Linked DNA regions of Homo sapiens. The protein of the gene in region 2 interacts with the protein of the main gene of each other region in a pairwise test. Each region holds a gene or a part of one and is shown on either strand. Other genes may lie near its edges.

Region 1 (7,034 bases), on a different chromosome or scaffold from region 2:
ACAAAAGCAGTAATTTCACAATGAGATTCATCTATTCTAGAAATATTTTCCAAATTCTACTCTTGTAACTAGTGATAAACTCAGTACTGTTCATTGCATAGAAAGATGAAAGACTTTTCTTTCTTTTTTTTATTAGAGATGGGGTTGCCCTACGTTGCCCAGGCTGGTCCCAAAACTCCTGGGCTGCCTTGGCCTCTCAAAGTGCTTGGATTACAGGCATGAGTACCATGCCCAGCCAGAAAGATGAAAGACTAATTTAGGTAACAAGTGCTAATGCTACAGAGTTTCATCAAATAAAATTTTGGGGGAATTTTACTGCCCTAGAGGACTGGTTCTAGCCACTTTCCCAGGGCAGTGGATCTCTGCAAAGTTTCAGTTATTGGAAAAATCTTGAAGTCTATAAGCACATCAAGCATTGATGTTTGACCCATTATAATTATGTTAAAACTATATAGATTATGTATAAATACATTTTAAAAAATTTTAACGTATTACTGGCCTCAGAGTAGTTCTGCCATTTTCCCAATCAATGGATATTAGAATATACAACCTCTATGCCATGTGAGGGACTACAGAATTAACTGATATTAAAAAGGAATCCTCACTGGGCGTGCCTATGATCCCAGTACTTTGACAGGCCGAGGCGAGCAGATCACTTTAGGACAGGAGTTCAAGACCAGCTGGACCAACATGGTGAAACCTTGTTTCTACCAAAAATACAAAAAAAAATAAGCCAGGCATGGTGGTGCATACCTGTAGTTGCAGCTACTCAGAGAGGCTGAGGTGGGAGAATGGTTTAAGCCCAGGAGGCAGAGGTTGCAGTGAGCAGAGATCACACCACTGCACTCCAGCCTGGGCAACAGAGCGAGACTCTGTCTCAAAAAAATAAAAAACAAACAAACAAACAAACAAACAAACAAAAAAACAAAATAAAAAAACCAAGCCAGGCATGGCGGCAGATGGCTGTAGTCCCTGCTACTCTGGAGGCTGAGGTGGAAGGATCACTTGAGCCCAGGAGTTGGAGGCTGCAGTGAGCTATGATTACACCACAGCATAGGTAGATGACAAAGGGAGACTCTGTCTCCGCACCCCCACCCCACCAAAAAGTAAATTAAAAAAGGAATCCTTATATTTCAAAAAGAGTGAGAATAACTGACCTAGAGCTTTCAAAGGTACCATTCATTCCACATATAATCTTTCACTTTCAGAGAGAAAATTACTACATAGATAAATAGGCATTTTTTCCACACCGGTACTCGCATCTAATTGGCAGTATGGCAAAGGAGGAAAGGAAAGACTTGGGTTTGGGTCTTGACTGTCCTATAAACTAGGTATTAAAACGTGAACAAGGCACTTCACTTCTACAAGTTTCAATTTCTTCACATATAAAATGAGGATGAATCTACCTCCCCTAACCACTTCATTAAAAGATGTTAGAAAACAAAATCAGAATGGAAGTTAAATTATGAAGTACTATATAGAAATATTACCATACAGAATGCATGCAGGTGCAGAAAAAGTTAAGTTTGGATGTGACTATACAGGGACTTGAATGCCAGGCTAAAAACTTGATTCCATAGGAAATAAACATTAAGAGGTTTTACTGTCAGGGGGTGAGGAATTCTGGGGATGGTGGAGTGAGACAGAGTGTGTGTGTGGTGGGGGGGTGGAGTGGGGTGTGGGAGTGTGTGTGTGGGGGGGGGGGGATGTGTGTGCATGTCCATGTGTGTGGTATGTAACCAGTGAGATAACTGTGCCTTCAAACAAATCTATTGGCACCGTGAAAGGATGTAGGAATTCAAAGAACTAAAGGCTACTGTAATGGTTCAAATAAAAGATAAAAACCTGGACTAGGCCAGGCATGGTGGCTCACACATGTAATCCCAGCACTTTGGGAGGCCAAGGAGGTGGGCTGATCGCTTGAGCCCAGGAGCTCGAGACTAGTCTGGGCAACATGGCAAGACCCCATCTCTACAAAAAATATAAAAATTAGCTGGGTGTGCCATCAGATGGCCAAATCATTATTTACTGGACCAGACCTTTTCAAAACTATCAAGCAGATAGTCAAGGCCTGTAAAGTGTGCCAAAGAAATAATCCCCTGCACTGCAGGCCATACATTTCAATCCCTCTATCTTTAACCTCCTTGTTAAGTTTGTCTCTTCCAGAATTGAAGCTGTAAAACTACAAATCGTTCTTCAAATGGAGCCCCAGACAGTCCATGACTAAAATCTACCACAGACCCCTGGACCGGCCTGCTAGCCCATGCTCCAATGTTAATGACATTGAAGGCACCCCTCCTGAGGAAATCTCAACTGCACAACCCCTACTACGTCCCAATTCAGCGGGAAGCAGTTAGAGTGGTTGTCGGCCAACCTCCCCAACAGCACTTGGGTTTTCCTGTTGAGAGGGGGCACTGAGAGACAGGACTAGCTGGATTTCCTAGGCCGACAAAGAATCCCTAAGCCTAGCTGGGAAGGTGACCGCTTCCACCTTTAAACACAGGGCTTGCAACTTAGCTCACACCTGACCAATCAGATAGTAAAGAGAGCTCACTAAAATGCTAATTAGGCAAAAACAGGAGGTAAAGAAATAGCCAATCATCTGTTGCCTGAGAGCACAGAGGGAGGGACAACGATCAGGAAATAAACCCAGACATTCGAGCTGGCAACAGCAACCCCCTTTGGGTCCCCTCCCTTTGTATGGGAGCTCTGTTTTCACTCTATTAAATCTTGCAACTGCAAAAAAAAAAAAAAAAAAAAAAAAAAAAAAAATTAGCTGGGTGTGGTGGCATGCACCTGTAGTCCCAGCTGCTTCGGAGGCTGATATGGTAGGATCACTTGAGCCCAGGTGGCAGCAGTTGCAGTGAGCCAAGATTGCACCACTGCACTCCAACCTGGGTGACAAAGCGAGACGCTGTCTCAAAAAAAACAAAACAAAAACAAACAAACAAAAAACCAGACTACAGCACTGACATTAAGAAAAGAATGGGCTACCTTTCAAATGTAGGAGGGAGGAGTGTGGAAAAGAGAAAAACTGAGCACAAAAATAGACAGGTGGACAGTAACCCAGGATAAAGAAAAACAAAATGTTCTTTGTTATTGGAAAGATCAAGTTTAGTTGTGTTAAATTTGAGATGTCTGGAGGTACTCAAGTATTTCAACAAGGGTGTGAAATTAAGCCTTAAAAAAAGAAGTGTTCCCAGAGCTGTAGATCTGGGAGTTAGCTGCTTAAGGTGACTGAAGGTGAAAGAAGAGTGAGAAGAGTAACACAGTGCTGAATAAAGAACCTGGATAACACCAATGTTAGAAGAACAGACAAATAAAATCAGGGAAGGAGGATAAAATGAATTTGAAATAGGACAATAGGGAGAATTTATTACAAATGCTGTAACTTACAGAAATATTAAAGAAGAAATTCAACATAATGTTTAAGTTTGATATTTGATTTAGAATTAAATATTAAGGAAAGAGTTTAGAGAACACATTTTTGACTTGGTTTCATGCTTACAGAAATATTATTTTCCTCTGGTGAAAAATCTGTAAGCTCCCAGAGTAAGCCTTCCCCCAATATCTCCCTAGTCAAAAGCTTTTGAATTGGTGTGAAATATTCTTCCTTCCCATACCATCATTGAACTTAGTTGAAGGTAGACAAATAGGCTGATGATGAAAACAGACTGAGATCCTGTTGTCTCCACACATTTACAGTCAGAAATGATGCTGGCCAGCCAGAAAGCAACAAAAGTGATGACAATCTTCTGGAGAGAAGATGTTTGTTCTTTTTATTATAGTCTACAAATGCTTATTGTAGACATCTAGAGGTCACAATAGCACATACCCTTTCACTTTAACTTTTATGAAAATGATAAAAATAAGTCCTAAAAGTCTTGGTAGTTTTCTGCTCATATGAAAATTTTAGAACTTAAGGAGTCAGTATCCATTTAAATCTATGCTTTAAAACAATTATCTCTTTACTTATAGCATGATACAATAACTGACTTTATCTCTTCTCTTACATAACTAAGAAAAGATTAAGCTGTGTTTGGTATATTGTTTAAAGTGACAATGAAATATGATTTTCCTCCAAATAGTACATTTCAGCACCCAACAAGCAAAATTTTCAGTATCTGGGAAATATTTCAGGTATTTGGTTGTATTTTCCAGAATAGCTCATTTGCTAGCAATACTAGAGAGAGCTGGCATCATGTCTTACCATTTTAGCCAACGGATCTCACAAGCCTCAAATTTTAAAAATGAAGTGCTTTGTTATAATTCTCTGAAGAATAAGTAATTATAGTAACTCATTTACTTATCTTACCAAGCCAGAAACCTGGAAGTCATCCTAGAGTCTTCCTTTCTCTAACCTGATTAATCATTTACTATAGTTAAATAGCTCTCAAAAAACATTTCTCTACCACCATTATCCCTTGTCTAAGTATTAAGCTATTAACTAAACTCACTGGGCATCAAATTATAATAATCAGACTTTGTGCTGATGTTTAGATATTTAACATCTGATGATGTACTCTGCCCTTCCTGTACTAAAAGGCTGCAAGGACAGCATGTCAATGCAAAATCATAGTACTCCTTCCAACAGAGAACTTTTCTCTTCACCATGTGATTCTACCATCTGACCTAGGAGAAGTGCCTCCAGTTATTCCAAAATGTCAACTTCTCCGATGGCCTAGAGCAGTGGTCCCCAATCTTTTTGACACAAGGGACCGGTGTGATGGAAGACAATTTTTCCATGGATGGGGTTGGGGATTGGATGATGGTTTTGGGATGGAACTGTTCCATCTCAGATCATCAGGCATTAGATTCTCATAAAGAGCGTGCTATCTAGATCCCTCACATGTGCAGTTCACAATAAGGCTCGTACTCCTATGAGAATCTAATGCCATCGCTGATCTGACAGGAGGCAGAGCTCAGGCAGTAATGCTGCTCACCTCCTGTGTGGCCCGACTCCTAACAGGCCATGGACCAGTACTAGTCCACAGCATGGGGGTTGGGGACCCCTGGCCTAGAGGCCTGGTTAGATTTCTATTCCCTTTTCTGTTAGCATTTATGGATAAGCAACAAATGAAACAATTTTAGAAGCAAAATGCAGTAAAGCCCTAATCCCAATAAAGTGTAATGTTCATATCTTGATTATATGACAAATAAGATAATGAAATAACAAATCCATCTACATACGTATAACTGATTTATATGTTTTTACTGAGTCAAACATCTCTGGCATTTAGCTATCTAAAAATACAAAAAAAAAAATTTAAAGCAAGGCAATTACCTGAGGAGAGTCAAAAGGATATCGACTACTAAATTTAAATAGAAGTTGAAATTTTTCCCCTTCATATAAGGTACCTGGTGCACCTTCCATGTCTACAATCCACCTAGAATAGAAAAGGCAAATTAAAAACTTAAGATAATAGAGACTGGGGTAAGGAGGAGAAAAGAGGACACCAAGTACTTCCTATACACTAAGCACTAGGACAAGAGTTGGTTATGTGTAACAGCACATGCCAGCCTCCCAATAACTCTCTTACTGTTAATTCTCATGACCTATCCCCTTCTCTGACACTCAGCGGTGAAATAACCAGATCAAGGTCAGACAGCTAGCAAAAGACAGAGCCAGGTCTAAAAAAGCAAACTAAATAAAACCCAAGGCCGGGTGTGGTGGCTCACACCTGTAATCCCAGAACTTTGGGAGGCCAAGACAGGCAGATCACGAGGTCAGGAGTTTAAGACCAGCCTGACCAACATGGTGAAACCGGTCTCTACTAAAAATACAAAAATTAGCCGGGCATGGTGGTGTGCACCTGTAATCCCAGCTACTCAGGAGGCTGAGGCAGGAGAATCGCTTGAACCCGGGAGGCAGAGGTTGCAGTGAGCCAAGATCATGCCACTGCACTCCAGCCTGGGCTACAGGGCAAGACTGTCTCAAAATAAACAAACAAACAGACCTCAAACTAAGGTGCACTGACACCAAAGCCTGTGCTCCTCCTAATTGATTTATACTACCTTATTTTTTCAAAGTACCATTTCTACAATGCTGATATTACGTATTCTATACATAACATCAAACAAAGCAACTGCCTCTGATTATTACTGGTGGAAGCCATGGAGAAATACGTATAGACAATGACCACAGAGAACCGTAGCTGTCAGACTTATTTTTTTCATCAACATCCTAGAGAAGATTAACAGGGCAAGGGGAGCTAAATTGACATCAGTCCACTTACTCTGATGATTAAGCAAGGCTTTGTGGTGACTTTCCTTTATCTCTCACTATGTTTCAATTGTTTAATAAAGCCCATTTCTATGCCATCTATGCAAGCCTTTGTTTTCATATATAACAATCATAAACATAAATGTGTTATTTACAGTTTATATACTATTCTTGTTATTTTCTTTAAGATGGGAAGAATAAGGGATAATGACAGCAAAGATAACAGGGCAGCATTAGAAGCAAAAGTGAATTGAAGTCATTAACAATGTGTTCCTAATTATAGCTCTGTCACTTATAATTCTTGTACACCTGGGCAATTCTCTTGAACTTTTCAGTTATTAAACTTTCTTGTATTTAAAATACAAGAAAACAAAAGGAAGATAGAAAATACAGTGTTGGGATTCTAGTCATCACCACGCATACTATGAACCTTGGATTATGTAAAATAATAAATGTACCTATTCTCTAAAAGAAATCAGCTACAGTATACAGACTCTTAAGAGCATGGCTATTCATTTTAAGAATGCACGCTGAGTACCATACATGGTAATAAAAGATACGACCACAGACCCAAGAGACAATATTTTATAGTGAAATTAGACAGTTATAACTGAAGTTATACTGAAGTCGCAGTTATAGTTAATCTTAACTCATTGTGTGAACAAGTTATGTTATCTCTCCAGTTTTAACTACCTCAATAATAAAACAGAAGATAATCACCTCATAGTGTTGTTGGAAAGATAAATGACCCTACATACGTAAAAAACCTAGCACATTCCTGACTCAGTCAATACATGGTAAATTAAATGCA
Region 2 (7,034 bases):
GTATTTTTAGTAGAGATGGGGTTTCACCATGTTGTCCAGGCTGGTCTCGAACTCCTGACCTCAGATGATCCACCCACCTGGGCCTCCCAAAGTGCTAGGATTACAGGCATGAGCCACAGTGCCCAGCCACGGTGCAATATTTCTAAATTAACACTAGAAGTAACGAAAGGGTACTAGTAAGGACCACCACAATAAAGCCACACTTTAAAATAACTTCCAAGTAAAAGAAAATATCGAAATGCAGTTAACATGATTATTCCCCGATAGAACTGATTTTAAAAGAAACAAAAATGTGTACTCAATGATAATGAAAATGGTAAGTATCCAAAGCTTTGGGAAGTGACTATATGTAACAAGAAGTAAACACAGCCTTAAACGCTTTTATCATTAAAAAATAATAAATAAAAAATAAAAGAAGCTAAGAGAAAGAACAAAATTAACTTTACAAAATGAGAACGAACAGAATAGAGGTAACAGTAGAAAAAATTAAAAACCAACAAAAATAGCAAAATGTGTTGTTCAAACTGAGCACTGGCTCTCTGAAACATATTACACATAATCCTGCCTGGGCAATATAGCGAGACCCTGTTCTCCACAAAAAGGAAAGAAAAAAAAGACAATAAAAATAAAAATAAATAACCCATTATGTATGCATGGCTTCATTCTTCTTTTTTTCCTCAGCTCACATATAAATAGGTAAATTAAAGAACTATTACAGACTAATCACAATTCAAGCAAAAATTAGGATATTCCACATGGTCGGAACTTATGAAATTCAAATGACTGAATACATCTATAATTTTCTGACACACTAATATTTTCGTCGCTAAAAAAAGAGCCCTGAATGAAATAATGACTCTGATAGGTGACATTACTCGAAATATATCCACCAATCTGCACTTATAAATATCAAAAACCTCACAAGTTTTTATGGGTTAAAAAATTTTACGTAGTCCCAAAGATTATACCTTGCTAGAAGCTGTTTCCATCTCTAATGAGCAATTTGGCAATAAAGATCCAATGCCTTGAACAAAAGTGTATCTTTGTTTCTGGCAATCCCATGTCGCTGATAAATTTCTAAGAACTGGCCGGGCACTCAGGCCTGTAATCCCAGCACTTTGGGAGGCTGAGGTGGGCGAATCACTTGAGGCCAAGAGCTCAAGACTAGCCTGGCCAACATGGCAAAACCCAGTCTCTACTAAAAATACAAAAATTAGTGAGGCATGGTGGTGCACACCTGTAATCCCAGCTACTTGGGAGGCTGGGGCACAAGAATCACTTGAACCTGGGAGGCAGAGGTTGCAGTGAGCCAAGATCGCACTACTGCACTGTAGCCTGGGTGACAGAGCAAGACTCCATCCCAAAAAAAAAAAAAAAAAATGTAAAAATTTGCTTACCAGGGTGTTCATGGCAACAGTATTTTATTACATCTGTACCAAACAAACAAAATGCTCAACCATAAGGAACAACGAAATAAATCCTTGACTCTTCATTTTCTCTCATACCTCCACATCTAATCCAGGTGGCTCTATCTTCAAAACACGGGATATGCAGAATCTGGCCACTGCTTAGCACCTCCAGCACTGCCACCCAGTCCAAGCCACTGTTATCTTTCATCTGGATTTTTGCCTCCTTGCTGACTCTTGCCACCTCACACAATAGCCAGAGTAATCCTTTAAAACCCAAGTCAGATTATGTCAATCCTCTGCACAAAAATACTCCCCATCCCTCTTTAAAACAAAAGCCGCAAACCACAGGTCAGTGGTTATGAGGCAGTTTATGATTCTGTCCCAACCTCATGCCACCCCACTATGCTCTCATCTTCTACAGCCCTCTGCACTCCAGCTGTAAGTAAACCTACATATCAGGTACACTCATGCCTCAGGGCCTTTATAGTTACTGCTCCCTGTGCCTGAATATGTTTTTACCCCAGAGATCCTCATGACTTGCTCCTTCACTTTCTGCTTGAATTGTCACCTTGTCAGTGAGGTCATCCTTAAAACCCGATTTAAAATAGCAACTATAGATAGGCCTCCACCCCAGAATCTCTATCAGCCTTTGCACTCCATTTTTTTTCCATTACACTCAATGCCCTAACACACTATGTATTTTACTTGTCTGTTTACTATCTCTCCCAAATAGAATAATAAGGCCCCTAAAAGCAGGGATTTTTATCTTATTTCTTCACTGCTGTACCCCCAGAATAGTGTCCGGAAAAGCGCGTCCTCATTAAATATTTGAGTGATTTTTGGAATACTGGGTAATAATTAAAAATCATGTTATAAAAAATTTTAATGTGATGTTAGAAACTGGTGGAAATGGAAACAGCATGTTATCAAAGAATATGTAACCCATGGATCAAGAAGAAATCATATGGGAAATTAAAATACATTTTTCACTGAATGTTAACAAGAACACTTCAACATCAGTGGGATTCAGGTAAAGCAATTCTTGGAGGAAAATGTGTAGCTTTAAAACTTTGTATTAGAACATCAGAAAGGTTAAAATCAAAACAATATAAAAATGAATGTTCCAAATTTTGTGTCTAAAACAAATACATATATAAAAGACATTAACAGTTATTTCTGGTGGTAAAATTACAAGCAATTTGCGATTTTTATACCTGCTTTTCCGTATGTTAGTTTTTCTCTAGTGAACAGGTATTATTTTTATAATTAAAAAAAAACCCAGGTTTTTAAAAAACTTCCTTTCCCTCTGGTTGAATTCTAACTGCTGGCCTCTTCCTCTCCCTGTCTCTTAAAATACTTGCTCCTCTGGATTCCATCCTTGTCCTTCGTCAATCTATATTCATCCCTTAGTAATCTTATCCACTTTCTGGATTCATTTATAACTTGCAAATTGATTTCTCAGTTTTTTGTAATATCCTGAATTAGAGACTCATGTTTCCAACCACTTAAAGTATACTTCTATCCAGATGAAAATCCTGTAGCCACTCAAATTTAACAGGCCTGAAAGGAACTCATTATCATTTCCTAAAACTTGTTCTTTTCATCTTTAATACTGGTTAAAGACATCACTATGTACCCAGGTCAATTCTATCAGTTCTAGCTTAGAAATCTCAATCAAATCTAACTTTTCTTCTCCCTCACCAATGCCATGTTTTCAACATAGGCATCTTCTATCAGTTATATTTTAAAAGAATCCTAACTTATTCTCCTGCTATCACACTCTCCTCCTTAAGAACTGAATCCTGATCAGGGTTGCTGCATACAGCCTGAAGTCTGCACCACTAGAGAAGGTTGCCATCCATGTAAACTACGAGTGTTAATTGTGCCCAATGGCCTAATCATGATACTCCCCCTGCTTTCAAACTTCATTAGATAAAACAAACCTACAGCACTATAAAATCTTTCAACTGGCTCCACTTTCTATTTTTCTAGCTTCAGGTTCTCATCATTCCTCTATGCACCCTACAATCCAGACATATTTAACTTTTCAGTATGCCCTATCAAAACCCACACTTTTGTGGATTTTTCTTTAGTCTGTACTGCCCTCTCTCCGTACAACTTCTAAATCCTTCAAACTACAGTTCAAACGTACCCTCCTCTGTGAAGCATTTTTTGACCAGCCTAGACAAAGATACTTCACTAAGTGTTTTGTTAACAGTTCTATTACAGAATTTGTTGCATTGTATAATGATCACATATATCCATCTCTCAAATTCAATGGAGAGTTGAGCAGTGCATAAAGAAGCTCCATATTTGTACCCTCAGTATCTATAATGTCCAGCCCCTAAAAGGGGTTAAGTTCATGTTTATTAATGCTATACTTAACCATATGCATTAGTACAACTTTTTAAAAGTAAATTAAAATGAGTTTAAAAAAGAAGTTACATGTTCAGCTGTCAATCTATCTATAATCCATGTGGCAGAAAGAACTGATGTGACTATTCTTGATTCCTACACTTCCTGGTGTTTAAACCTTTGTATAATTCCCTCCCCTTGCACGTGAACTGGACCTATGACTTGCTTCTAATGAATGAAATACAGCAAAGGCAATGGGTTGTATGTGATTACATGTACACGATTATGTAAGAACATAGCACCAGTTCACCTTTCCTTTGCTTACTTTGAAGAAGCAAGCTGCTCTGAACCTAACAGACACAAGGAAATAAATTCAGCCAATAACCCAAGGAAGTCTGTGGGCAGACCTTTCCCCAGTTGAGTCACTAGATAACAACCCTGCCCTGACCTACACTTTGACTGCAGTCTTAAAGAGGACACAGCTAAGTTGTGCCCAGCCTCTTGACCCACAGAAATTGCAAGGCAATAAACGTGTTGCTTAGAACCACTAAATTTGCAGTCATTTGTGAATAAGCAGCTTAGAAAACGAATAAAATCAGAACCTAAGGTATTTCTGAACCCTTTGTTCACAAAAAGGCCTATGTTTTGTCCAATTTCTTAACAAATAAATGTCATGTACATGCAAAATTAAAACACAGACTAACATTTCAAATAACAGTTCTTAAGAATATTCACATAAAACTTAGGAAGTAATTTGCTACATAAAGCAGTTCCTACACTCTCTTTTAACACATTTGCCAATATACCCAATTATACATAATACTACATGTAATAAGTTTAATATTAGGGCAATTCTCCTTAAAACCCAAATAATAATAAATAGTTTAAAAGTTGATATCTCATTAATGATATTTGGTAATCAGAAGAACTTAGTTACTGGTCACCAGGCAAAGCGATCAAATTGGAGGAGAGCAAGAGACTTGTTGGAGATGTGCCTGAGGGAGTAAGACACTATCTTACAACAACAGGGCTCTTACTCCCTCAGGCACTGCACCAGCCAGCAAAGCATCAAAATACCAGGTTCTTAGGTCACGCTGCTCTCAGATCAGGTGATGCCCTGTGCAACTCACCAATCCTCCCCACCTTGCAGTCAAGAATAATTCCAAAAAATTCCCAAAGCAGAAACTTCCATGACACAGGCCACACTTACACACAGCAAAACATGTAACACGAAGGTATGAAATTACAAGTGAGGAACAATAACCACCAAAATTCTTATTACTTCAGGAGTGGCAGGGGTTGTGGTTAGAAGGCTCATTTTTCTTAGAAAGAGGCAAACATTCCTCTTCGGCCACTCCCCATAAAAGCCTTCAATGGCACAAAATAACATTCAGGAATAGGAAATAGATTAATTACAATATCCCAAATTCAAACATTTTGGCACTTGATATTGGTAAGAAGTGATAACTGAGACCGATTCCATAATGGTTAATTGATGAAGATAACCTAACACCATAAAACTTCACATCTGCCTTAAAAATTAAGAGAAATCTTCCTAGAAATACAGGTCTTATTCAACATATTCAGTTTTAAGAGATAACCCACACTCCTTCAATATAAGAAAACATGTTTCACAAGTAGCAAGGCACCTGAGTTACAATCAGACTACTGAAATACTCATGAGCAAGCCACACCCAAAAAAGCTCAAGAAAATCAGGAGGCCAAAAGCAACCCAGCACCACTGGTTGTCTTAGATTAAGTCATTTTACATTTTCACTTCTGGACTCAAGGATACATTATAGAAGTCCACACGATTTCTCTGGAAATAATCTCCATGTATTGGTATATTTCTATAGCCCAATTCATCTACCCCATCCTTGCTGCATCATTAAAGGCTATTTGACCACTCATATTATGCTCTTATGAACAACAGCTACTTGACAGTGGAAAAAAAAACGTAGACGTAAATTAAAGCCAAACAAACCCTAAAATACCATCAACATTTTTAAATATTAGGAAATACCCTTAAGACCTGTTTTAAAACAAAGGTGATGGACGACACTAGCAGTAGTCAAGAAAGCGTCTGTTCACTTTAACACTCCTCAGTCTGAAAAGAATAATAAGGACAAGATTTACTTCACCTAAAAACTCCTATATAAATATAATCACATTCTGATGTCTGGCAACTCAATTCTAGGAAATTTCTACACACTGAAATATCTGGATTAGGCATTTTTCTTCCAGTTCTCTAGAGAGAATAAGAGTGTATATAGCCAAAACAGATGTCCAAATGACATCAAAACATAAAACCAACACAGAAAACTTCCTCGTTCAATGTGGCAATTCATTATGAGAGAACTACTAACAATTCCACTTGCTAGACTCTTAAGTGTTAAAAATAAAAGGGGGGGACTGTTTTTCATTTTCTATAAATTACATGAGAGCTCACAAGAGAATAATTTTGAATCTTATTAGTACCACATTTTCTTATTAGGAGACGTTAATAATATAAACAACAATTAAAACAACAGTTTTACAAAAAACAATACGAACTTTCCACTAATTCTGAAATAATCCTTTTATCAATTTTCAGATGCAGTTATTTGTATATAACCATTTATACAATTTGTAACTGAATAAACACAATAATGTTATAATAGATACTAAAAAGTTAAGTAAATGTGAACTAGTCAAGTCTTTTTTAATTATAAGATTCTTCATTTAGCTCCCTAAATCTCAAGATGATGAGAAACATGCTTCTATTGTTTTCCTAATAACCCGTCCACTAAAATATAGGTAAAAATCTCAGTAAGGCAATGCCACTAAGATGGGTTTTTACGTAAATGTATTCCATCTCCCTGCCTCAACAGAGATTTCAGGATGTGGCACTTTCATCTGATCCTGTCATATAATAAGAACAGGTAATTTCTCTGATGTCTTTCCAGCAATTCTCAACTGAGGTTCCTCATCTGAATCACCAAACACAGGAAATTATTTCAGTGACTTTTCTCAATTGTTCCAAGAATGATACATAACTAAAACCGTTCTAAATGCACTGGAGCTAAAAGTTAAAATTCATTGCACACTACGGCACAATTGTCTCCAGAAAGCCGGGTGAGAAAGGCTGCTGTAAGTTCCTCAGAAAGTGTCACTGTACTACTAGGCCCCAGTCACCCAACCCCAACAGCACTAAAAGAACTATAATGAGTGCACAAATCTAGAACTTAGATAAGAAAAAAGATAAATGCTTTATCTCCAACTTTAAGCAAC

The links. Proteins that work in one complex are often made in the same cells at the same time.
Region 1: the proteins of ZNRF2 (region 2) and UBE2W interact in a two-hybrid assay, tested with the Homo sapiens proteins (one study listed by BioGRID).

The regions. Positions count from the first base shown.
Region 1 is NC_000008.11:73,819,863-73,826,896, forward strand, and holds part of UBE2W (ubiquitin-conjugating enzyme E2 W), read right to left. Parts: intron 5,388-7,034; coding exon 5,285-5,387; intron 1-5,284. UniProt on the Homo sapiens protein: Accepts ubiquitin from the E1 complex and catalyzes its covalent attachment to other proteins.
Region 2 is NC_000007.14:30,287,595-30,294,628, reverse strand, and holds part of ZNRF2 (E3 ubiquitin-protein ligase ZNRF2), read right to left. Parts: intron 5,872-7,034; exon of another isoform or gene 5,797-5,871; intron 4,836-5,796; exon of another isoform or gene 4,739-4,835; intron 1-4,738. UniProt on the Homo sapiens protein: E3 ubiquitin-protein ligase that plays a role in the establishment and maintenance of neuronal transmission and plasticity. Ubiquitinates the Na(+)/K(+) ATPase alpha-1 subunit/ATP1A1 and thereby influences its endocytosis and/or degradation.